Regions from separate parts of the Homo sapiens genome. Here region 1 is linked to region 2. Evidence: fine-mapped expression QTL. A gene starts in region 2. The other region holds a variant in brackets. All regions are shown on one strand. Distances are between the middles of the regions.

Region 1 (12,620 bases), 33 kb before region 2:
TCCCATCTGACATAGTCCAGGGTGTGATGTGGAGACCTTTTGACTGCAGTGCTGGGCGGGGAGACTCTCACCGGGGACTTGTAGTACATAATCTGTCCCTGTCTCAGGACAAACCAGCGCCTCTTCCACGTCTTCACCTGGCTCCCCATTTTCAGCAGGTAGCCCGACTTCTCCAGTGACTCCTGAGGGGTGGAAGGGTGTAGATGAAGAAAGGGGAAATCACTCAGGGCTCCTAGACATCACACAGGTCCAAGTGGTCCAGCTGCCTCACTACTCGGTCATCAATTAAATACAAAATTATTGAGTACCTACTCAGTGTATTTTCAGAGTACCATGCCCTGCTATGGTTCAGAGAGGACTAAATAAAACATGGGTGGTCCTGCCAAGGAAGGGCTCCCATGCTAGCTGGGGAAGACCTCACTATGAGAAGGTAGCAGAGCAGGGGCTGCTAGAGGGAGAGCCTGGCCAGGGAGAGCGTCAGGAGAGAGCCGGCCCTGAGCTGGCCTTGTTAGGATAGTTCAGCCTCTCCCTCAAAGACTGAGAGGAGGAAGAAGACCATTCCAGGCAGCACAGAGCAGGGAGAGGGCAAGGCAGGTCTGGGCAACCTGGACACATCAGCCAGGCAGGACTGGAGGGTCATGGAGCCAGGGAGATGATGGGGCAGCAGAGAGGTGTGGGGCGAGGGATGCGGAATTACATCGGGAGTGGATGCTAGCCCTGGCATGTAGTGGCACAGCTTGGAGCCTCAGGCTTCTCATCCATAAGATGGGCTAATGACCCCAAGAGGATTGTGAGGACAAATGAGACAATGCCTGGAAACTGAGCACAGTGCCTGGTGCCAAGAGTTCAATAAATGTTAGCTTGCGTTAGTATTCCAGGTGATAAAACAAAGTCATATATGGAAAACTCTTCATGGGGCCTGGTGGGCCACAGTAGGCTCTCAGTAACTGGCCATTGCTGGTATTCCAGGAGCTCTCTGGGCTCCCTCCTTCCTTCCTTGTGGGGTCTGTGTGTCTGACTCCATAACTGTACACCCCCCCAGCCCACGCCCCCTGCCCCCATCCCCCAGCTCTAGGGACCCCTCACTTCAGGCAGCTACTGCCTATGTCTTGTGCTGAGGGCCCCAGCAGCCTCTGCTGCATTCTGCTTCCACCCTGCCCCCGCCCGTTTCCCGGCTCACCCCGCCCAGGCCCAGCCCGTCGGTGGAGTAGGATGAGGTGCGCTGCAGTTTGTGCTCAGGCTCTGAGTAGTCACTGTCCAGTGAGCAGGCGTCCGGGGGGATGGCGTAGTCACCCTCGGAGCTCAGTGAGGACATGGAGACGCCTTGCCGAGGGAGGAGGAGTCAAGGCCCGGGTCCCACACCTCCCCGACTCACGCAGCCCAGGAGCTGCTGAGACTTGACCACCCACCCGGGACCCGGTCTCTGGGGCTGGGGGTGGAGCTGCTGGGGGGTCACGAGCTCAGATCAAGTGGGGACGCCCATGTTCAAGTGCCCATGGGAAGAGGTGAGGGGCTCCTTGCTGCTGCACCCTGCCCCTGCTCCCCTTCTCTGTACCTCTCTTGATGGCCCGGGGGCTGCCTAGTCCGCTGGTCTTCCTGGACTCAGAGGAGGGGACCGAGATTCGGAAACTCGCCTGAGAGCTGCAGTCATCGTCAGACCCAGAGGACTCGTCCATAAAGGGCATGTTGCTGATCTGTGTAGCTCTCTGCAAGACAGGCCCCTCCCTCACTGCAGCTCAGGCTGCAAAACAGTCCTCTCCCAACCCTGCAGCTTGCACTCCTGGTCCAAGTGCCCATGGTGTGGCCAACCCCCAGCCGGGACTCTGAACAGACAACTGTCCAGTGTAAGGTCCCTCCTGGCCTCACTCCTGTGTCATGACCTCCATGCTTCTCAGGCCTCCCTTCCCACACACCATCTTCTGTGGTCCCCAAAGCAGCTGCCCATCACGACTGAATGCCTGCCCACTGTGACCCTCGCTCCTTGCCACTAGGGGGCCAGAAAGCTACACCACAGACTAAGTGTGCCATGCGAGCTTTAAAAATGTGTGGGGACGTCGCAACAATCAATGATTGCATCTCCATTGGCAAACATTTAAAGTGACTGACTATCTCAGTGTTGGTGAGAGTATGGGGAGAAGATGGGGGAAAAAACTCTAGTGTGTAAGGCATTTTTAGAAGGTAATTTGGCAGTACCTGTCAAAAATTAAAACATGTATATAATTTGCCCAGAAATCCCACCTCTAGAACTCTGTCCTACAGACACATGTAGATATAAGTTCCCAAAGATATATGTGCACAGTGATGTTCATGGCAACATTCATTTTAGAGAAAAACAGGGACACAGACTAAATTATTATTGGAGGAAAGCTTTAGGTATTAATAGTTATGGTGCTTCGATACCAAGGGTACTGGACACCTATAGAAGGAGGAGGTAGGGGCCAGGCATGGTGGCTCATGCCTGTAATCCTAGCACTTTGGGAGGCTGAGGCAGGCGGATCACAAGGTCAAGAGATCAAGACCATCCTGGCCAACATGGTGAAACCCCGTCTCTACTAAAAATACAAAAATTAGCTGGGCATGGTGGTGCGCGCCTGTAGTTCCAGCTATTCAGGAGGCTGAGGCAGGAGAATCGCTTGAACCCAGGAGGTGGAAGTTGCAGTGAGCCAAGGTTGCACCACTGCACTCCAGCCTGGCAACAGAGCCAGACTCTGTCTCGGAAAAATAAAAAGGAGGAGGTAGGGAAGGATGACCTGACACGTGGTTATTCACGTGGTTAGGGGAACAAGCAAGGCATAGAATGACATGTATATGAGCACCTTTTGTGTGCACACAGGAGACAGTGAGAGTGTGCTGCATATTTATAAATGCATCGGAAGGCCTTACTGAATAAACACTAAACCATTCATGATAGCTTCCTCTGGGCTTAGGAATTAGGGAAAAGCGACGTGAGAGGAAATTTCACTTTTGGTTTTTTATTCTTCTATAAAAAATTTTATCAAGTATTACTATTATTCAAAAACCAGTAACAGAGACAAAAATGTGTATGAAAATATTGCAATTCTATCTGATTTTTGTTTTTAAAATGTAGTGACGTTACGGGAATATAAGTTGGAATATACCTCAGTAATTCTAGAAGGAGCCCCACTGCCCTCTGGGACCTGAGGAGTGAGGCAGACATGAGAAAAGGTGGGGAGAGCTGTAAAGCGGGCATAGGCTTAACCTTCTTACCTTGTCCACGTTCATACTGATTCACATTTTTGTAAATGTGGAATTTTTATAATAACCTAATAAACAATAAAACAAAATGACACGTGCTGGGCTCAGCTCCCTGGGCAGGGTCACCATGTGCAGAAGCCTGGCCCTAGAGCCCCGCCCCAGTCATTGGATGATGAGGCCAGGGGCCTTTCCTGATGAGACACCCCCTCTTTGTGCAGCAGTTTCTTACCCCCTTCAGTGCTGTGTAGACAGGCACAGTGACATTCTTGTAGACCAGGCCAGAGAAAGACCCAGGGGAAACAAGGGCAGGAGGGCTTGAAGCTGAGCAGGGAAGAGAGGAATGAGATTACTCAAGGGCATAACCCAGGAAGGGGTGTGGGGGAAGCAGAGAACTGGGCAGATGGCATTCCCTCCAGGAGCAGGCCAGTGACAGATCTCAAGAGGGGGGCCAGGGCCCTGTTCATCTTCTCCCCTTGACTCCCTTTGGGGACCATGATCTCCATGTGGTAAAGG[A/G]TCCCTCACAAAAGAATCCAAAAGCCTTACCTTTAACCATTTTTTCCTCCATGAGGCTTGCACAGTGTTCCACTGTTGCAGATGTGAGTTACAAATCATACGGCTATGGGACCACCCCACAGCCCTCGTTGTGGAGATTTGGTGGCTGGCTGGAGAGGAGCCAGTGAGTGGGGTTCATGTAAATCAGGACACTTGTGGCTCCTCCCACCCACGGCCCTGGCACTGCAGAAGCGAAGCCTGTGCAGGTGGGAGGCTGGGCTGGAGGCCCCCTCTCAGATCCCTTCCAGCTCTGTGACTGGCTACTTTCCTGTGATGGGCTGAACCTGTACGACTTCCCTTTCCCTCCTAGGTGGGACTTGCTGTGATTTCACCTGAACTTCACCTGCTGGGGAGGGGAACAGGGTAGGCCAGCCAACCCTGGCCCTGGGTGTTGCTTGGAGTCTTCTCCTCCCCGCTTGCCCACCCTGCCCACCTTGGGTGTTTGGTGCCTCCAAGCCTCACTTGGAACTCACCGCAGCATGCAGTATTACTTCTGGGAGACATATCTGAGAGCCGCATGCCCGATGTGGCCACAGCATAGATCCGGCTCTCCTGAAACAAGAGGTCTCAGGAAGCTCAGGGCCCGGCATGATGCCCATCCCACCCCCTCCAGGCATGTGCAGGAAAAAGCATGGCTTTGGGGGTGGGCAGACCTGTGGGGGGCAGTGACTGGCTAACAAATCTTGGGCAAGTTACTTCATTTCTGAGACTCATTTTCCTCTGCTCTAAATGGAGGTAATAATACTTACCTTTCAGGCTGCTGTGAGAATCAATGAAATACTTAACATAAGCATTTAACACCTGGAATATAATCAGTGCCCAACAGTTCCCTCTCTTGCCTCCACCCTTCACCTTTGGGGCAAAGGAGGTTCAAGAGAAGATGGGTCAGTAAACTGTTGCTCTGAATCCTACCCGTTTTAGAGACCCTTGGGTCTCAAGATCTAACCCCCAGAAGTTGGGGATATTGGTAATGAGGAAGCCACTGCGGCCACACGACAAGGGCTCTTTTGTAAGCCAGTTGTTTGGAACTTAGGGCACATTTTTAAAAAATTCTCTATTGTTTCTTTTTTTAAAAAATAATTTGTTTGTTTTTTAAGTTCCAGGGTACGTATGCAAGATGTGCAGGTTTTTATGTAGGTAAACGTGTGTCATGGTGGTCTACTGCACCTAACAACCCATCACCTAGGTATTAATCCCAGCATGCTTTAGCTCTTTTCCCTAATACTCCCCCACCGCCACCATCCACTGACAGGCCCCACTAAGTATGTTCCCCTCCCTGTGTCCATGTGTTCTCATTGTCCAGCTCCCACTTGTAAGTGAGAACATGCAATGTTTGGTTTTCTTGTTCCTACGTTAGTTTGCTGAAGATAATGGCTTCCAGCTCCATTTATGTCCCTGCAAAGGACATGACCTCATTCCTGTTTATGGCTGCACGGTATTCCATGGTGTATATGTACCACATTTTCTTTATCCAGTCTACCATTGATGGGCATTGGGTTGATTCCATGTCTTTGCTATTGTGAGTAGTGCTGTGATGAACATATGTGGGAACTTAGGGCACGTTTTTTCCCCTGCAGGAATAATGTCATATCATGGCTAGGCTTCAGGGCCAATCTACAAAGCCTATTTAGCCCAACAGGACTCCAGCACCCCCATGCAGAAGACACTGGGAGAATGCCCGTCCTGAGGGGGCCCCTGGGTCTGAAGTAGGCCACAGGCCAAAGGAGCTTTTCCTAATGGCCCTGACTGCTCATAAACAACCCACAGGGTTCCCTGCACCTTCTGGATCTGTTTGCTCCACTGAGCCTAAAGGAAAACAAAGGTGACGTGAGTCACCAAGGCTGACGAGGGAAGGTTGACCAGCCTTTGGAGGAATGCCCTGTTGGCTCAGGGAGGTAGCTAGATGTGCTGTCACCTGGTGGGGTCAGATGGGCTAGGAGATGGCATTGGAAGGGAGGTGGGTGCCTATCAGGGTGTCATCCCAGAGGGGAGCAGCAGCCCTGGGACAACTGGGAGGAGAGAGGGCAGAGCTGATGAGTGCTGCCATGAGACGCTGAGATCACTGGAGGGGCGGCAGGAGACAGAGGGGCGGTGAGGAAGGATGCCAAGGAGGGCCCTGCAGCAGGGCAGGGAGTTTCTGTGCTCGTGTAGGGCAGATACATCGAGCCCAAGTAAAATTCGGCATAAAAAGGATTATTTCTGCCCAGAGTGGTCATGGAATTTAACCAAGGACAAGCCTCTAACTTTGCAGAGGAAATGAAACTGAAGTTTGAAGGATTTAGGTAAAACGAAACCTATGACTGTTTGACAAAATGTTATCTAATGCCTAACTCACAAGGTTGTTTTAAGGATTAACTGAAAAAAGGGCTTTCCAAACTCTAAGATACATAAGTATTTCTCACACCGTCAGATTGAGAAATGTTCTCTGACATTTCATTCCCCCACCGCCCTCCCCAGATGGTTACTGCCCCATTGGTCCTGCCTGGGAGAGAGAGAGGCTGGGCTTCTGGCCACTGTGATTTCTTAAGCTCTCCCCGGAACACGGAACACGAGTGATCATGCCTCAGGGGCCTGGGAAGGAGCTAGCATTGTGTCTTGTTTTCCCCAGGAGCAAGTTACAAAGGGGATTGCAAACAGGATGAGATCTCCTTACATTCTTTTGGCTGATTCTTGGGTCCTTGGGGCCTAGCTGGGGGCAGGGAGGTTCTGTGGGAAGACCTGACGCTGCCCCTTAATACCTTAATCCCCTTAATACCTTCATCACCAGAGTTCAGCTGAGGTTCCTGGGGAGAACGTCATCTGATATATTTTCTATACAGAATAAGAGGAGACAATAACTCCTCGTCTCCCCATTCCTCCTCTCCTCCTCCACCCTCTCTCTCACACACATACACTTAACCTGTTCAGATAGAGAAGACCCACTCTTTTTTTTTTTTTTTTCAAGACAGGGTCTGGCTCTGTCACTCAGGCTGGAGTACAGTGGCAAGATCTTGACTCATGGCAACCTTCACCTCCCTGGGCTCAAACTTAACTTCCACTTAAGCCTCCTGAGTAGCTGGGACTACCGGCATGTGCCACCATGCTCAGCTAATTTTTGTATCTTTTTTGGTAGACATGGGGTTTCGCCGTGTTGCCCAGGTTGGTCTTGAACTTCTGAGTTCAAGCAGTCTACCTGCTTCTGCCTCCCAAAGTGCTGGGATTACAGGTGTGAGCCACTGTACCCGGCTCAAGACCTACTCTTAAGCTATCACAGTGAATGGCTGTATTTTGGCAAAATGGCAAAGTGAGCAACGCTTCTCTCTGGTAGCAGCTGCACATTCCTTGCCTGACTACTTCCTGCTCCCAACCTCTGCATTTGGACTCCAGAGCAAGAAGAGAGCCAGCAGCCCAGGGGGACCAGTGCTTTTCCATCCCCTAGTCTTCCTGATGTGCCCCACTCTTGGCTCAACTGGGTCTCCAGTCTTACAGGTGTCCTTGAAACAACCAGAAGCTGATCAACAGTCACTGCCAAGGATATAGCCCAAAAGTCTAGGGCTGTGTGCCTCCCGAACCAGCATTTCTTTGTTTTGTTTTGGAGATCGTCTCCTCTGTCGCCCAGGCTGGAGTGCAGTGGCGCAATCTCAGCTCACTGCAACCTTCGCCTCCTGGGTTCAAGCGATTCTACTGCCTCAGGCTCCCGAGCAGCCAGACTATAGGCGTGCACCACCATGCCCAAATAATTTTTGTATTTTTAGTAGAGATGGGGTTTCGCCATGTTGGCCAGGCTGGTCTCGAACTCCTGACCTCAAGTGATCTGCCTGCCTCAGCCTCCCAAAGTGCTGGGATTACAGGCATAAGCTACTGAGCCCGGATTTGAACCAGCATTTCAAAAGGAGGCCCTGGGAGTTACTGCTGGAAATACAGGTCTCCCGAGCAGTGGTGTGGGGTGAGTCCACCCTGATGTCACCCCCTCTCCCAAGTGACCTCATTCCTCCTGCTGCCAGGAGCCAACGCTTAGCTGTCCCCCATGGTACTGCTACACACCCCAGCAGCATCTGTGGAGGGGATGTCTGCCCATGAATCAAAGACTGACCTTAGCTCTGGCAATGTCCCTTAAGAGGAAGTACAGCTGGAATGTGAGAGCTGGGCTTCAAAGCAGCTGGAACTACATTTAAAGCCTGGCTCTCAGACCGGGTAAGGTGGCTCTTATGGCTGACAAAGGAGGATCACTTGAGGCCAGGAGTTTGAGACTAGCCTGGGCAACATAGGGATACTCCATCCCTACAAAAAATTTAAAAAATTAGCCAGGTGTGGTGGTGTGCACCTGTAGTCCCAGCTGCTCAGAAGGCTGGGGTGGAAAGATCCCTTGAGTCCAGGAGTACAAGGCTGCAGTGGACTGTGATTGTGCCACTGCACTCCAGCCTGAGTGACAGAGCAAGACACCGTCTCTCAAGTAAATAAATAAATAAAGCCTGGCTCCCTCACTAACTACTACATGACCTTGGGCAAGTACCTAAGTCTGTGGGGAACAGTGGTTTCCTGACCTGTAAAAGGGAGAAACCACACCTTACTCCTTGCAAGGAAAGGAGCCCTTCCCACAGGCTCCGTGCGAAGCCCTTAATACCCACATGCCATTTTCACTAGTGACCTGTGAAATGTCATTTTTATAGCCTGTCTCATTTTTATTTTAACTTTTTATCATGGAAAATGTCAGGTACAGGGCCAGACACAGTGGCTCACACCCGTAATCCCAGCACTTTGGGAGGTCAAGGTGGGAGGACCACCTGAGCCTGGGAGTTCGAGACCAGCCAGGGCAACAGCATAGTGTTAGCCCATCTCCACAAAAAATTAAAAAATAGCTGGGCATGGTGGTGCATGCCTGTAGTGCCAGCTACTCGGGAGGCTGAGGTGGGAGAATTGCTTGAGCCCGGGAAGTTGAGGCTGCAGTGAGCCATGATTGCACCATTGCACTCCAGCCTGGGCAAGACTGAGCAAGACTCTGTCTCAAAAAAAAAAAAGGAAAAGAAAAAAAAAATGTCAGCCTGGCCAACATAGTGAAACCCTGTCTCTACTAAAAATACAAAAATTAGCCAGGCATGGTGGTGCATGCCTGTAGTCCCAGCTACTTAGAAGGCTGAAGTAGGAGGATTGCTTGAGCCCAGGAGGCAGAGGTTGCAGTGAGCCAATATTGCGCCACTGCACTCCAGCCTGGGCGACAGAGTAAAACCCTGTCTCAGTTAAAAAAAGAATGATCTCACGTGCCCATCGCCCAGCTTGGCAAAGGTTAATGATGTGTGGCCAGTCATGCTTCATCTGTGTCCCCACCCTTGGCCACCAACCAGATCATTGCTTCTGAAGTATTTCTACCAGACAGATATCAAGACATTTTATCCAATGTTACAAGTAAGGAAGCTGGCCTGGCGCAGTTGCCTATAATCCCAGCACATTGAGAGGCCTAGGCAGGTGAATCACTTGAGGTCAGGACTTTGAGACTAGCCTGGCCAACATGGTGAAACCCCGACTCTACTAAAAATATAAAAATTACACTTTGGGAGGCTGAGGCGGGCGGATCACGAGGTCAGGAGATCGAGACCATCCTGGCTAACATGGTGAAACCCCGTCTCTACTAAAAATACAAAAAATTGGCCGGGCGTGGTGGCAGGTGCCTGTGGTCCCAGCTACTTGGGAGGCTGAGGCAGGAAAATGGCGTGAAACTGGGAGGCAGAGCTTCCAGTGAGCTGAGATTGTGCCACTGCACTCCAGCCTGGGCAACAGAGCAAGACTCTGTCTCAGAAAAAAAAAAAAAACAGTTAGCCGGGCATGGTGGCACACACCTGTAATTCCAGCTACTTGGGAGGCTGAGGTGGGAGTACCACTTGAACCTGGGAGGCGGAGGTTGCAGTGAGCCGAGACCGTGCTACTGCACTTCAGCCTGGGTGACAGAGCAAGACTCTGTCTCGAAAAAAAAAAAAAAAAAAAGCCAGGCTCAGTGGCTCATACTTACAATCCCAGCACTTTGGGAGGCCCAAGAGGGTGGATCACCTGAGGTCAGGAGTTTGAGGCCAGCCTGACCAACATGGTGAAACCCTGCCTCTACTAAAAATACAAAATTAGCTGGGCGTGGTGGTGCATGCCTGTAATCCCAGCTACTTGGGAGGCTGAGGCGGGAGAATTGATTGAACCCAGGAGGCAGAGGTTACAGTGAGCCAAGATCATGCTATTGCACTCCAGCCTGGGCAGTAAGAGTGAAACTCTGCCCCCTCACCCCCACCCCCCAAAAAAAAGAAAAGAAAAAGAAAAACAAAGAAAGAAAAATAGCCAACACTTACCTACCACCTACTGTGAACCACTACTGTAAGTACTTTCACAACAACCCTATAAAGTAGGTACTATTATCCCCATTTTATAGACAGGGAAGCTGAGGCACAGAGGTTCAGTAACATGTCCAAGGTCACGTAGTTAACAGTTCAACCCTAGTGGTTTGCTTCTGGGGCCTATGCTCTTGACCATCATACCAGACCACCTGAAAGACTCACAAAGATTAAATGAGAAAAGGTATGCAGGGCACCCAGCTCAATGTATGGTGCACGGTGAGCACTCAGGAAATGACAGCCAACCGCCATTCACATCATTCTGAATTCTGGCGCTGACCCTCACTGGTTGTGTGGTCTGCACAGGCTCCATGGTACCTGCCTGCCAGGGCCACCATGAGGATGCCAGCAGCCTCCTCTCCTGCTCAGTGCATGGCTGTGCTCAGCCAGCAGTGTTCTTGCCATTAGCTCTGCTCCTCTGCCCAGCCCGGAGGTTGCCTCTTACCCAGGATGAAAACTGGTGCAGCGGGGGTGTAGGTGGCTTGTTACCCAGCTCCACTTCCTCCAGCTCAGCTCCAAGGGCCTTTGGGCTCTCTCTTTCCTCATTCTTCCCTGCTGGGGGTGGCTCCTCCATCTCCATCTTCTCTGGTTCCTCCCGGGACCTAGCTCGGGACTCCAGCTCAGGAAGGCCAGAGGGGTGGAGGGCTGAGAAGGCCTCAGTCTCAATGTTCACCACACGGCCAAAGTGCCCATGGCCCACCTGGGGCTGGCTGTGGTGCCTTTTGGCCAACTGGATGCTGTCCCGCGGGGTGCCAGGAGCCCGCACCTTTGGTAGGGTCAGACTGCTGCCAGGACCACCTTCCCTGGCAGAGGTCTTTGTCCCAGGGAGCATCCCTCTCTGAGCAGTAACCAGACCCTCACCCCAGGAAGCTGAACTACATCTGAAGGTAAGAAGCTTCATGCATGGCTGGTGGGGAGGGCTCTCTCTTCCCAGATGAGGTTGAAGGGGCTTGGCCTCTACTGTTTCCCCAGAATGGACCGTGCTGGAACTAGAATCCTCCAAGGGGCTTGCTGCTTCAGAAACAGAGTCCTTGCTCTGCAGGGCACCTGGGGAAGGTGCAAGCACAGCTGCCTTCAGACCCTGGGCCTGGGAGCCACTGTCCTGGCCCATAGGCTGGATTCCCGGCTCTGAAGGGACAGAATCCTGCTCTGCAGCTCCGTAGGGGGGCACCAGCAGCTTCCGTGAAGGAGCTATCTGAATAGCTGTGATTCGGGTAAAAACAGTCACATTGAGAGCTCCCGTAGCTCAGCCCCATACCCACCAAACACACGTACTGCACACCTGCACACCCTGGCCTGCCTACCTTCTAGCGCATCTTGAAGGGATCCCACCTGCTCCACCAGGCGCTGATTATGGCTTTTCAGATGCTGATTCTCCATCTCAAGCTGAGCAAAAAGAAAAATGAAGATTTAGGACACCCAGCCTACAGGTTTAGATGTATTTTTTCAATTCTTTTTTTTTTTTTTTTTGAGACAGGGTCTTGCTCTGTTGGCCAGACTGAATTGCAGTGGAGCAATTTTGGCTCACTGCAGCCTTGACCTCCCAGGCCCAACTGATCCTCCCACCTCAGCCTCCTGAGTAGCTGGGACCATAGACACACACCACCAGGCCCAGTTAATTTCGTTTATTTTTTTGTAGAGACAAGCTCTCGCTATGTTGCCCAGGCTGGTCCCAAATTCCTGGACTCAAACGATCTGCCCACCTCAGCCTCCCAGAGTGCTGGGATTACAGGCATGTGCCACTGAGCGTGGCTGCTGCATATTCTTTTCTTTTCTGAGACAAGGTCTGGCTCTATCACCCAGGCTGGAGTGCAGTGGTGCAATCTTGGCTCACTGCAACCTCTGCCACCAGGGCTCAAACCATCCTCCCACCTTAGCCTCCCACCTCAGCCTCCCGAGTAGCTGGGACTACAGGTGCACGCCACTATGCCCGGCTAATTTTTGTATTTTTTGTAGAGACAGAGATTTGCCATGTTGGCCAGGTTGGTCTCAAACTCCTAGTGTCGAGCAATCCACCCGCCTAGGTCTCCCAAAGTGCTGCTGGGACTACAGGTGTGAGCCACTGCCCCCAGCCTGCATTTTCCTTTAAATTAAGTCCAACACACTTTTATTGAGTATCTTTTAGCAAGGGTTGGGACTGTGAGAATACGCAGGTAAGCCAGGCATCAGTTCTGTCTCCAAGAACTTGCAGTCTAGCAGGTGACCTGAGATGTACATCCAAAGAAGGGGATAGGAGGCCAAATGAGCTGATACCCTCCTGCAGGTGTGAACCACTTGTGTGAGGACAGAGGAAAAGATGTATGTTTGTCAGCCGGGTGTGGTGGCTCACACCCGTAATCCTAGCACTTTGGGAGGCTGAGGCGGGCAGATCACCTGAGGTCAGGAGTTCAAGACTAGCCTGGCCAACATAACGAAACCCCGTCTCTACCAAAAGTACAAAAATTAGCCAGGCGTGGTGGCGTGTGCCTGTAATCCCAGCTACTCAGGAGGCTGAGGCAGGAG
Region 2 (12,620 bases):
CCACCTCCTGTACTGTTGCCAGATACTACCACAGTGCAAAGTTAGCCTCTCTTTGATGGGCTAATCACCAATCGTGCTTCTCCCCTCGCATGTGACTTTTATTCGTATTTTTCTCCCATCATACACTACAAGTAGCTATTGCTTATTGAGTCTTTATTGTATGCCAGGCATGTGTTGCCTCTTTAAACCTTACAACAACCTGTGAAACAATAGGTAAGCACTGTTGTCCACACACACATGAGGACACTGAGGAACAGAGAAGCTAAGTAATTTACAGATAATTGTACAGCTAGTTAATGGTGGAGCTGGGATTCTGGTCCCAAATTCCTTGTTCATTGCCACTCTGTGCTCTTTACCCATCCAAAAAAAATAAAAAGAATTTCAATTTCACAAAGAGTGTGGTAGACTTGAAAATGGCAGAAATCGTTTCTAGGATCTTTCAGAAGCCTTAGCACAAGGATGAACCTATATCCCAGATTTCCCAAGACATCTTGGGCTCAAATATTCTGACACCATAATCTCCCCAAGCACTGACCTTTACCATGTATCCTGACTTTTCATCTAAAAAATAAGACCTGCAGAGAAAGGCCCAACAATTAAACCACTGATGGACCGAGTAAGCTCGCTTCTTGGTTCCTCAGAACACATGACTTCAGCGCTGCTCTCCCAGCCCTGTCATCTAAACAATCCCTGCATTGTGACCTCCCAGCAATCCCCATCTCAAAAGACTAGGACCAACTGGAACGGGCAGGAAGACAAAAGACAAAAACAAAACATGACCTTCTCTGAGCTAAGATCACAGCTGAAAAGACAAAACAGAACCTTGTAAGGCTCTCAGAGAAGGCCGGGAGGCTTCATGTTTGATTTTTCCTTGTCCTTTACTGGGATTTTGCTTTTCCTTGTATAAATAGGAAAAGTGGCAGATCTGAGACTAGGACCTGGGAGTCTCGCAACTCAGTTCAGGGCTAAGAAATAACAGTAAAAGCATAAAAGCAAGGGGCAAGGGAAATGTAATCCCTTTGTATAGTTGAAAGAGTTTGATTAATATTGATTCCCTCTTACTGATTGTCAAAGCTGCTGCTCAGATTCTATTGGGAGAGTGAAAACCCAAATTATCAAAATCTCCAAGTACTTTGGAAATATGTCACTGGTGTCTGCCTAGCCCTGATATCTGAGATTATACCTAGTTTAGGGAATGCTTTCCCCAATCAAGCATCTCCGTAACATCATGGTTCTGAACTGATCAAGTGGTCTGTTTAATCCTCTCCCTGCCTTGGGGATGGAGAGGATTAACCACCCTCTCCCTGGCAAGTTGCTGAGGAGGTTGGGACTCGTGCTTGGCTTGCCTCAGCATGTGAGGAGAGCAGAGAGGTTTTGAAATAGATCAGGAGCAGGGTGCCTGCTGCCAAACCCAAGGCCCAGAGGCTCTTCTGACAGAAGCAGGTGGTCAGAGCAACAGCTATAAAATAAGGGAGGTTAAAGGAAGATACCAGTAAGCTGAGCCTCACCTGCTAAGTCACCTTGCACTTATACCTCCCATAAAAATGCACAAGGATGAGCAGAAATGAATACCTTACATTTGCAGTAGAGTTTGTAACTTGTCAAAGCATTGCGACGCATGTGTTATTTCTCTCTTTATCCCTGAGATGGAGGACGAACACAATTAGTCACAATGAACAGATGAGAAAACTCATCACATCTGTGACTTGCTTAGAGCCTTGCATAGAGCTAAGGAGTAGCAGAACTGGGCCAAGAATCCTGATCTCCCAATATCTACAATTGTCCTCTTCCCATGATGATGCTTCAGTAGTGGTAGCAGATATCTCATACTAACAGGCTAGTCTAACACAAATACATTAATGGCAAAAAATAAATGGGGAAATGAGAGAGGGGAAGTGAGCTGGAAACAAAACTCAGCTCAATTTTTTTTTCTATTTTTATTCTGGAATGCTCTATCACACATTAGAAATAGGGAGAATAGTACAATAAGTCCCTCTGTCCCCAATACCCCGCTAAAATTACGATCAGCTGTTGGCCAGTCTTATGAAACTCATAGTTTTCTTGATTCTGCTGGCACCCAGCCTGCTAAACTGCTTGGCAGGTGAATCAAAAAACTGCCATAGTCTTGATACCTGCTTTGGCATCCCCTGAATCCTCCAACACCCGGGACTGAAATGCCACAGCAGTCAGTGGGGATATGCCCCAGAGGCAGGGGCTGGGAGTAGGATGGGTGGGAAGGTGGCACAGGAAGTCATTAGGTGACTCCAGACTCAGAGTCTGTATCAGAGAAAACACAAATTTGACCTGGGATCTCTCTGGCAAGTTTGAGGATTTTGAGCAGAAACTGACAAAATGCTAAGATTACTTTTTTTTCTTTTTCTTTTGAGACAGGGTCTCACTCTGTTGCCCAGGCTGGAGTGAGTGGCACAATCATGGTTCACTGAAGCCACAACTTTCCCAAGCTCAGGTGACCCTCCCACCTCAGCCTCCCAAGCAGCTGGGACTACAGGCGTGCACCACTGTGCTTGGCTAATTTTTGTATTTTTTGTAAAGACAAGGTTTCACCATGGTGCCCAGGCTGGTCTCGAACTCCTGGGCTCAAGTGACCCACCTGCCTCATTATTCTAAAGTGTGTTGAGCCACTGCGCCCAGCCTAAGATTAAGTTTTTATTATTATTATTATTATTATTATTATTATTATTTTTGAGATGGAGTCTCGCTCTGTCACCCAGGCTGGAGTACAATGGTGCAATCTCGGCTCTCTGCAACCTCCGCCTCCCGGGTTCAAATAATTCTCCTGCCTCAGCCTCCTGAGTAGCTGGGATTACAGGTGGATGCCACCACACTGGCTAATTTTTGTATTTTTTGTAAAGACAGGGTTTCACCATGGTGCCCAGGCTGGTCTCGAACTCCTGGGCTCAAGTGATCTACCTGCCTCATTCTTCTAAAGTGTGTTGAGCCACTACACCCAGCCTAAGATTAAGTTTTTATTTTATTATTATTATTATTGAGATGGAGTCTCGCTCTGTCACCCAGGCTGGAGTACAATGGTGCAATCTCGGCTCACTGCAACCTCCGCCTCTCAGGTTCAAACAATTTTCCTGCCTCAGCCTCCTGAGTAGCGGGGATTACAGGCGGATGCCACCACACTGGCTAATTTTTGTATTTCTAGTAGAGACAGGGTTTCACCATGTTGGCCAGTCTGGTCAAACTCCTGACCTCAGGTGATCCACCTGCCTTGGCCTCCCAAAGTGCTGGGATTACAGGCGTGAGCCACCACTCCCGACCCCAAGATTAAGTTTAATACAAACAACTTTTAAGTGAGTCCTGTGTGCAAGATTGGGGATATAAAGATGAATAAAGATATTGTGGCTTTTGAGGCTCAAGTCTACAGCCTGAATATCCTGGTAGCTCCCTACAAAGGTAGCTAATCAATACAGGACCCTAAAAGAAAGAGGTCAGAGGTCACCACAGGCCTCAAAATAGCTCATTGCCTCTATCTTGTGGAGGATGCAGGAGGCATTGGAAGGCAACGGGGCTTCTGTTATATGCACAGTTTCCACTGGGCTCTCTCATATTGCCTCAGTATGGTTCATTCCCTGAGTGTGAGTATCTGTATGACTTCCACTTGCTAGTGAGGGGCTACCACCATCTTCTAAAAGTGCTCTGCCAGACGTGGCTGACTACTTGTCAATTGTGGGAGAGAAACAGCTTTGTGTCCCGTTTCTGGGGATGAGGCTGGGAGAAGGGTGTGAGTGTACACAGGGACAACTTCCTCTGATCTCAGCACTGTCATCTGATCAAGCTAACAACATCCATTTGGCCACTGCTGGGTGCCTACATGACATTCCACACAATGTCCGGGGAGACAGAGAAGGTGAGCATGTCCTAGGCCGCAGGAACCTCAATACCAAAAGAAGTGGTCAGGACAACCAGGTACAACATTCCTTGAGAACAAAAACAGCAAAGAGAAACAGCTTAGTACCTAAGATCCCATGCTCTGGCACTGACAGGCCTGGGTTTGAATACGAGCTCAGGCACTAAATAATCCTGTGGCCTTAAGCCATTTGCTTAACTTCTTTGAGACTCAGTTCCATTCTGAAATTGAGGGCAGTAATATTTGAAAATCAGGACAATAATATTTGGTTGAACCATATGAAACCGTCATTTAACCATTTTCCAACCTTCAAAATGGCCATTTCATATATCACATCATGCAGGGCTTTTTGAGAATTAAAGGAGATATTACAAAAGCCTGGTGCACACTAAGTACTCAATAAATGACTGTTATTGTTGTAATCAGCAAACAAAGGCAAACCAATAGCATCTAGAACATAAAAGGAGATGTGGCCCAAAGATGTGCTCACGAGGCTGGGCACGGTGGCTCAAGCCTGTAATCCCAGCACTTTGGGAGGTGGAGGCAGGCGGCTTACCTGAGGTCAGGAGTTCAACCAGACTGGCCAACATGGTGAAACCCTGTCTCTACTAAAAATACAAAAATTAGCCAGGTGTGGTGGCGCATGCCTGTTAATCCCAGCCACTTGGGAGGCTAAGGCAGGTGAACTGCTTGAACCCTGGAGGCGGAGGTTGTAGTGAGCTGAGATTGCACCACTGCACTCCAGCCTGGGCAACAGAGCGAGACTCTGGCTCAAAAAAAAAAAAAAAAAAAAAAAAAAAAGATGTGCTCACTACCAGATCTAACTCTGGAGATCTGGAGAGGAGGTCATATGATTTTTAAAGTTATTTTAGAACATTGAACAAAAGGGTATATAGTGCAAAGTAAGGCTTCTTCCCATGCCTGTACTTCAGCCATAGTTCTCCCCAGCGGCAACCACTGTTACAGGTTTCTGTGTGTTCTCTCAGAGATATTCAGAGCATCTACAGGCATTCATATGTATGTGGCATTCACACACCCACCCAAAAATCGTGGCCCACCATACACACTGTACTCAACAATATAACTTAGAGATATTCCTACATCAAAGTATATATCTGCCACATTTTCTCTGCACGCTTTATAACAGCTTTAATGTATCCTATCGTGTGGCTTTTACATGATCTTATTGAAGGGTTCCTTATTGATGGACATCTAGATTGTTTCCAACCTTTTGCTAAACAATGCTGCAATGAATATTCAATGATGTACACCATTTCATATACATCAGAGTATATCTGAAGGATAAAGTCCCAGAAAATGGAATTTAGGGGTAAATGATGTACACTTTAAATTGCCAGACATTTCTTTGGATTTTTTTTTTTCTATCAGGAATGGGAGGAACATGCTCTCCCCTACAGCTGGTGACTTCTGAAGAGGGCAGAAGAGGCTCCACATTTTTTCAGCTTAGTTGTTAGTTTCAATGAGTTTGGGGCCACAGGCTGCACCCCACAATTGCCCAACTCTGAGCAGGCCCCCTCAGCAGTCTATGGGAAGGTGGTAGAAGTGGACTGAACCATACGTTAGGAATTTAGGAGGCTTGGGTTTCAGTTATGGCTCTTCCACTTTTTAGCTATGTGACCATGGGCATATCACAACAATTTTTTTTTTAACAGACAGGATCATCAGCCTCCCAAGTTAGCTGGGACTACAGGCCCACACCACCACACCCAGCTAATTTTTAAATTTTTATTTATTTGTAGACACAGGGTCTCCCTATGTTGCCCAGGCTGGTCTTGAACTCCTGGCATCAAGCTCTCCTCCTGCCTTGGCTTCCCAAAGTGCTGGGATTACAGGCATAAGCCACTGCAACTGGCCTAAATCACAACTTTTCAGAGTCCCAGCTTCCTCCTTTGGAAAAATGGGGCCAATAATATGCAGAAACACTAATACCGATGTTCTATAAAGCGTTCAGTGATGGTACTAGCCCTATACACAGTGTCTGTCACATAGAAGACAGTCCAAACAGTTTGATGAAGGAACTGATAATTCTCCCACTGAATTTTTTAAATGGTCTTTCAAGTGTTTTACCTGAACCAAGGCTCTGTCTTGGAAGAGTTTTATGAGGTGGATTCATAGTAAAAGCTATGGAGGAGATATCCTGGCAAGCAGAAATCCCACAAGGAGAGGAGTTTCCTTCCAGATGAGGCTCTTCACCGCCTCTGCCACCCCCACTAAGGCCCCTGGTTCCTGGTGACCGAGTCCTCGCTAAGACTCCTAGGACACAATGCTCTGTGTCATTCGGCGCCCAACCTGTTTTCTTTTCTGCTTGAATGACCTGCTCCTAGGAGTCGAGCCTGAGCCATAGGGTCCCAAAGACAACACTCAGAAATCACAGAAGAAATAACCTGAGGTGAGATGGGGAGGGGTGCGGGAAGGGGTGAAAGGGAGCGAGCACCGATAGCAAGGTGGCAGCCTGCACGTCCGCTCCGAGGGCCCTTCCCAGGAGCGGCTGGATCTGACCGATCCCCAAGTCCAGGTACTCCCGGGGGAGGCTCCTCCTGGCCTCGCGGCGCGAGTCCCCTGGGGCGCCCGGCTTCCCAAGCCAGACCCGCGCTCCAGCGCTCCCCGCCGCTGGGAGCTCGCTTCCAGGTAGGGAGGCACCTGCTCCGGATCGTCCTCTGGGCCCGAGGGGCCGTCCCCCGCGCGCAGCCTGACGCCCTCCGCCGCGGCGCAGCCCCAGCCCACCACAGCGGCGGGAGCGCGGGTCGCTCACCTCCAGCGAGCTCGCGGCCGTCCCCGCCGCGCACTGGGCACACGGGCGCCCTCGGGCCGCCGCCGCAGCCGACCTTGCGTCGCTCTCGCCGGAGTCCCGGGCTGCCGCCGGTTCTCCCCTCCCCGGCAGCAGGGGTCGTGGGCTGCGGGGCGGGGCGAGGCTGGAGCGGGAGGGGTGCCCGCGGGCTCGCTGCACAAAGCCCGGCCGAGCCTTGCTGCGCCCCATTCAACGCTCCGCCGGGCGCCCTCCTCCCCTCGGCTCCCCGCCCGCTCCTTAAAGGCAGAGCGCTGGGCTCAGCTCTCCAGGCAGCTCGCGGAGAGGCACAGGAAATGACCTCAGCAGGCTCCAGCCTCCCACTTCTCCGCACCGCTGGGCTCGTCCCTGGGGCGGCAGGGAGGGCGGCGGGGTGTCCCGGGCGCCGGCCCGGAGCTCTCCGAGGAGGCCGCACCAGCTGCCGCAAGGGGTGGCCAGAGCGCCCCGGGGATCTGCTTGACCCCAAATAGCGGGGGACCCTCGCGGGCTGCGGGACAAGACCAGACCGTCTCCGCCAAAGGTTCCAGCATTCTCCTGGCCACCTGTGGGAACTGTAACGTCTGGATATTTGGAACAGAAGTCCATATTTCAGTCTGGCAGACCAAATGTTCTGAGTTGCAATTTGCAGGAGAAAAAGAAAAAATAAGTTACGACAGCCCAGAGAGTAACTTACTTGCTTATTTTCTGGTCTCGCTATGTTGCCCAGGCTGGACTCGAACTCCGGAGCTCAAGTGATCTTCCCGCCTGGGCCTCCAGGCCGGCTTATGTATATGTTATTTTAAAGGAGGGCCCAGGAGGACCCTGGCTGCCAGGCAGTTTGCAGGGCAGTCATCAGCGTGCCCATGTGCTCCTCGTTCTCAGACATTTGCAGATCTCAGATCGCCCAAAGCAATCTCATACCCAGAGGGGTTGGAAAACTCAACATTTGGCTAGGTGAGCCTGGAGTAAAGAAGATGCAAATAGAGACCATTGCAGGGAGGGATCCACACTTCAAAACAGAGCCTTCTTCCTCAACCCTGCAGGCTCTCTGTCAGTGAAGGACTGAACAGAAGCAAAATACCATCAGCGCCTGTTTCTCCAAATGGTCCTTGGAAGACTCATCCCAGGCACCATGAAGAACACCCCCACCCTGGGTTTGAATCTGAATCTCTAACTAAAGTACCCCAGGCCATTCTCACGTAGAAGTTTTGAGAGCCCAGACACTAAGGAAAGCTGGTAGTGCAGGAGGCCAAACGTGAGAATTTAACTGGGCCAATGGGACTTCAATGGCTGAACTTGCAAACAGCTTTATAGCTCGTGGGGATTGGGATAGATTAGCCCCATTTTGTGGGACAATGCTCAGGCTATCCACTTCAACATTCCAGAAGTTGCATAAGGAAGCCCAAAAACACGTTCTCTGGATTTTGCTAAGAAGACATTAATTCATTCATTCACTTTTTTTTTTTTTTTTTTTTTGGACATAGGTTCTTCTTGTTCTGTTCTCCAGGCTGGATTGCAGTGGCACAATCATAGCTCACTGTAACTTGAACTCCTGGGCTCAAGCAATCCTCCCATCTCAGCCTCATGAACAGCTGGGACTATAGGCACATGCTACTATACCCAGCAAAAAAAAAAAAAAAAATTTTTTTTTTTTTTTAGTAGAGGTGGGGTCTCAAACTCCTGGACTCAAGAAATCCTCCTGCCTCGGCCTCCCAAAGTGCTGGGATTACAGGGATGAGCCACCGCACCTCGGCCCAGAACTCATTTAATATAACTTTGTTATATAGTGAAAAGAGACGCACCATGGAGAGTGGAATGGGAGGAGCATGCTCTCCCCTATAGCTGGTTACTTCTGTAGAGGGCAGAAGAGACTCCACATTTTTTTCAGCTCAGTTGTTACTTTCAATGAGTTTGGGGCCATAGAGTGCATCTCACCATTGCCCAACTCTGAGCAGGACCCCTTGGCAGTCTGTGGGAGGGTGGTAGAGGTGGACTGAACCCTACATTAGGAATTTAGGAGGCTTGAGTTTCAGTTATGTCTCTTCCACTTTTTAGCTATGTGACTTGGGCAAGTTACAACTTTTGTTGTTGTTGTTGTTTTCTTTTAAGAGATAAGATCTTGCTCTGTTGCCTAAGCTAGAATGCAGTGGCAATCATAGCTCATTGCAGCCCAGAACTCCTAGGCTCAAGCAGTCCTTCTGCCTCAGCCTCCCAGGTAGCTGGGACTATAATACCCACCATCACCCCTAGAGCCCCTTTCTTTGGATATTAGCTTATTATTACAAGTGACCTGACAAAGGAGAATGGAGGATGGAACAGAGAGATGGGAAGAAAAGCCATCATGTGCCTGAGTTGAAGGATATGCTAGGGCATTCTTGTGAAAGAAGATGAGGCCGGGATGGGGACTTGTCAACTGGTCTGAGCCAATTTAGTCCTTCAATGATTGTATTAGCTGCCATGGGACGTGAGAGGTGAGAGGAGGCCATTCGTCTTCTTTTCTGTAATCTCCTGCAGGTGGGATATTAAAAATAGTTAAGGCCAAATTCTGCCAAATATACATGTATTGGCAAGCTGGCACAAAACAGTCACACAGCCTGCTTCAAGAAAATGGGGCAGTTGGCCTGCTCTGGCTCTCACACTCCATTCATGCAAGGGCAAATAATCTTCCTGGCCAACTCCATGTTTTGAAAACTGCTTATTTCACCAATAAAAGATTATTTCTAGCATCCCTCAAGCACATTAAGCCCTTGGGTGTATATTTTGATGTTGTTTGAAGTGCTTATGTAACCATTTTCTGGAGTGCGGATTCCTGATTAGGGCACTTCAGATGCTAACTAACCACTCTAGGAGTTACAGGAGAGTCACTTTATATACACACACTACATGGTTTAGGCTGGAATGTTTAAAAAATAAATTCCTACAGAGTCAATATTACAGCATCTTAGTCTGGGCCTTGTTCCTTGGACAGCACTATGGGAGGGAAAGGGGAACTTGGAACTGGCCAGAGCTCAGTTTAAGCTTTATCACTTAAGTGGTGGTGGGACCTTGGGGCAGTTGCTTAAGGTTTCTGAATTAATTCCATGTTTGTAAAATAATGATGATAATAATTCTGGCCTCTTAGGGTTGTTGAAATGATTAAATGAGATAGTATGTTGTCTGGCATGCAGCAAGTGATCTATAAATGGAAGCTTTTGTTATTTATTCTTTGAACAAATATTGGCTGGAGTTTACGAGAGATCTTGTAAATCTCTGTTTACAAGATTGCAATGGATAAGCAGATGGCTTGAGAGACAGGAATAACTCTAGGAGAGCTGGTGAAATGGTTGACAATTCATCTTCCCTTGTACGAGCCTTCTAGAAACCCTGCTTCCCATCCCTACCTGCTTTCTCTGAGCTCCAAAGAGACCCTCTCCTATATCACCAAAAAAGCCTCAAATCAAGGGATCCCCTCCTCCTGCCTTCAGGACCTGGTTCTCAGTTACTGTTGGAAGGGGAAGAGAGGGGAGAAGAAGGAGAAGGGAGTTTCAGACTCCCAGGAAACTTGGGGCCAGTCCTAGTCCAGGCTTCTGCTCTCTGCCTTGGGTCACAAAGAAGTCAGGAGGTTACTTCTACTGCTGAATCTTTGGGAGCAATTTGGCTCTTCGGTGATTGTCAGGATTAGCCACCATGGGACATGAGAGGTGAGGTAACCATGGGTTAGAGCAGAGTGTCAAGAGTCACCATCTAAGTGGGGCTAGGAAGGCAGTGATTGGACATGCAGAGAAGGGCCAGTTAGGAAGGAAAGGAAATGGCCCAGTGGCTAAATCCTCAGTGTGTGTGTGAGCGTGTATATGTGTGCATGTGAGATGGGTATGGAAAGATGGGAGGAAGTGTCCTAACTTTAAGTATGGACTCTTCTTTCATTTATTCATTCAGTTACTCACTAACAAATATCTATTGAATACTTGCTATTTTCCAGCCACTGTGCTAGGAAGGAAAGTGTGGCAAGTGTGACCTATCAACTCTGGGCACAGGCTTTAGAACTAGACATGCCTGTCCTTGAATCCTGGCTCTTCCACCCAGGGGACACAGGGTGGAAGTAATGCAGTTACCACATACATTCACTGCAAATAATCTGTTCAGTATACCTGTGGGTATGGGAGCCAGAGAGAGCCAGGCAGCGGATGGGGAGGGGAGGGAAGGTGTTCCTCGTTTGTAAATCAGGAATCAGAATTCCTTCCTTAGAGAGTTATTATAAAGATGGAGATAAAGGGCCTGCCTCAGTGCCTGGCATATTATTGGAATCTAGTAAATATTATGAAATGAGGAGGGAACTTGAAGGTGTAGAGGTGTAAAGGACTAGCAAGGCGCCCAAAGACTAGGGAGCTGGAAAGTACCCAGGAGGAGCAGCATGGAAGGAGGGCCTGGTGGAGAAGGATTCCAATGAGGAGGTGGGCAGTGATTCCAAATCTAACCTCATGTCTTAAAATGCTGATCTGAAAATACAGATTCCAGGCCACCTCTAGCTATTCAGATCAGTGGGCCCAGGAGTCTGCATTGTCACGCACCTGTCTGGGGTCTGTATTGACTGGTATGCCCTTGAGTGATTTTTCTCAGAGAGCAACTGCCAGGGCGGAACTGATGTAATTACAACACATATCAATGCAAAATGCTCTGTCCGCTGCAGCTGCGGGTTATACGGGCAAGAGAGAGCCAGGTGAATGGGGGCTTAATGGGATAGGGACAGGAGAGGGAGGGAGAAAGAGCACCTGAGTTGGGAGCTGGTGGAGCTCAGGGAATGAGGATCAGGTAAATCCAGCCATCTGACTGCAATTCTAGATCATTTTAGAGTTTGCAACATCCTAGTTTTAAAGCAGCTGTCTTATTTCTCCAACAGCTTTCATCAAAGATGAGAACAATGGCTGCTCACATCAATTGGGGGAGGGAGGAACTGGGCAGGGACCAGCTTTAAGTAGGTGGCAGGTTCTCCAACAGCCCAGGGAGCCTGTGTGGGGAGAGACTAGGGCTCCAAGAAGCCAAGGAAACCCAGGCCTGTCAGAGAGCTGCCAGTGACCCTTTACTTTTCTGGGACACATGTGTGGCCGCTGTAGACAATGGGTTTTCATGCTGACAGTGGGGTTCAACTTCCAGAGTTCAAATTCCAGCTTTGGCACCTAGCTCAGTTCTTGGCACTCAGTAAGTACTCAGTAGATGCTGGTTGTTATTATTATCTCCTCAGCAGAAGACAGACCCAAGCCAAGAGAAAGGAAAGTCTCCCAGCCCTACCTCACCCTCACACTCCAATCTATCTGAGTCCCCACCAGCCCATCTCAGAGCTGAACTACGAGAGGTCCTGTGTTCATACATTCATCATGTGCTTGCCGAGTGTCCACAGTGGGCCACTGTAGGAGAGGGAGAGCGTGGAGGAGTAGGTGGCTCAGTACAGGGCAACTGGACTTTGGAGGGCCTCTTCATGCTCCTTGACCTCCCCTCCTCAAAGCCACTACTTTCGCTGACAGGAAGAGGCCAGAGGTCTGGGGTGGGGTCCTACATGCAGAGCTGTGAGTGAGTTCTTGCTCAGCCACTACTTTGCTCCGCAATCTGAGGACATCTCAGCAACTCTTTGTGCCTCACCTAACTGTAAAATAGAAGCAGGACCTTCGTGGCTGCCATCCTCAGCCTGGAGATAAGGAATTAATGGACACTTCACCAGGGTCATGCTGGGGAATGAGGGGCTGCTGCGGTACAAAACACATTGTTGGTTTATCTGAGAATTGCTGAATGGGAATAGAAGCAACTTCACCAAAACACACCGGGGACACAGCCAGCCATTGCAGGGCACTGCAAACAAATGAAATCTTTCTTTCTAATCTCCTAATTAAAAATCGAAACATTTAAAGCCATATTTATTGAGGGCTGACTTTGTTCCTGACCCACTAAACATTTTAGGAGGAATCATCTTTTTTTTTGAGATGGAGT

Which allele goes with the higher level. Positions count from the first base shown, and alleles are read on the strand shown. Sizes are in standard deviations (SD) of each study's normalised expression.
With allele A in place of G in region 1, the expression in thyroid of the gene that starts at base 6,759 in region 2 is lower (small effect, 0.15 SD a copy in GTEx).

What was found.
Region 1: its variant is fine-mapped to the expression of PLEKHH1 in thyroid (GTEx, PIP 0.98).

What each region holds. Positions count from the first base shown.
Region 1 is chr14:67,560,838-67,573,457 of GRCh38, reverse strand. It overlaps PLEKHH1 (pleckstrin homology, MyTH4 and FERM domain containing H1), which reads right to left. Exons shown (of 29, transcript NM_020715.3): 6 at 11,423-11,504; 7 at 10,564-11,321; 8 at 4,242-4,320; 9 at 3,446-3,537; 10 at 1,556-1,706; 11 at 1,181-1,323; 12 at 72-182. It also overlaps a transcript of GPHN not described here. Among named protein-coding and RNA genes, the nearest start is that of PIGH, 33 kb to the left of the region's middle. RefSeq lists an enhancer at 1,812-1,991. The variant A/G (reference allele first, on the strand shown) is at 3,730.
Region 2 is chr14:67,527,429-67,540,048 of GRCh38, reverse strand. It overlaps PLEKHH1 (pleckstrin homology, MyTH4 and FERM domain containing H1), which reads right to left and starts at 6,759. Exons shown (of 29, transcript NM_020715.3): 1 at 6,651-6,759. It also overlaps a transcript of GPHN not described here and a transcript of TMEM229B not described here. RefSeq lists a silencer at 6,666-7,135.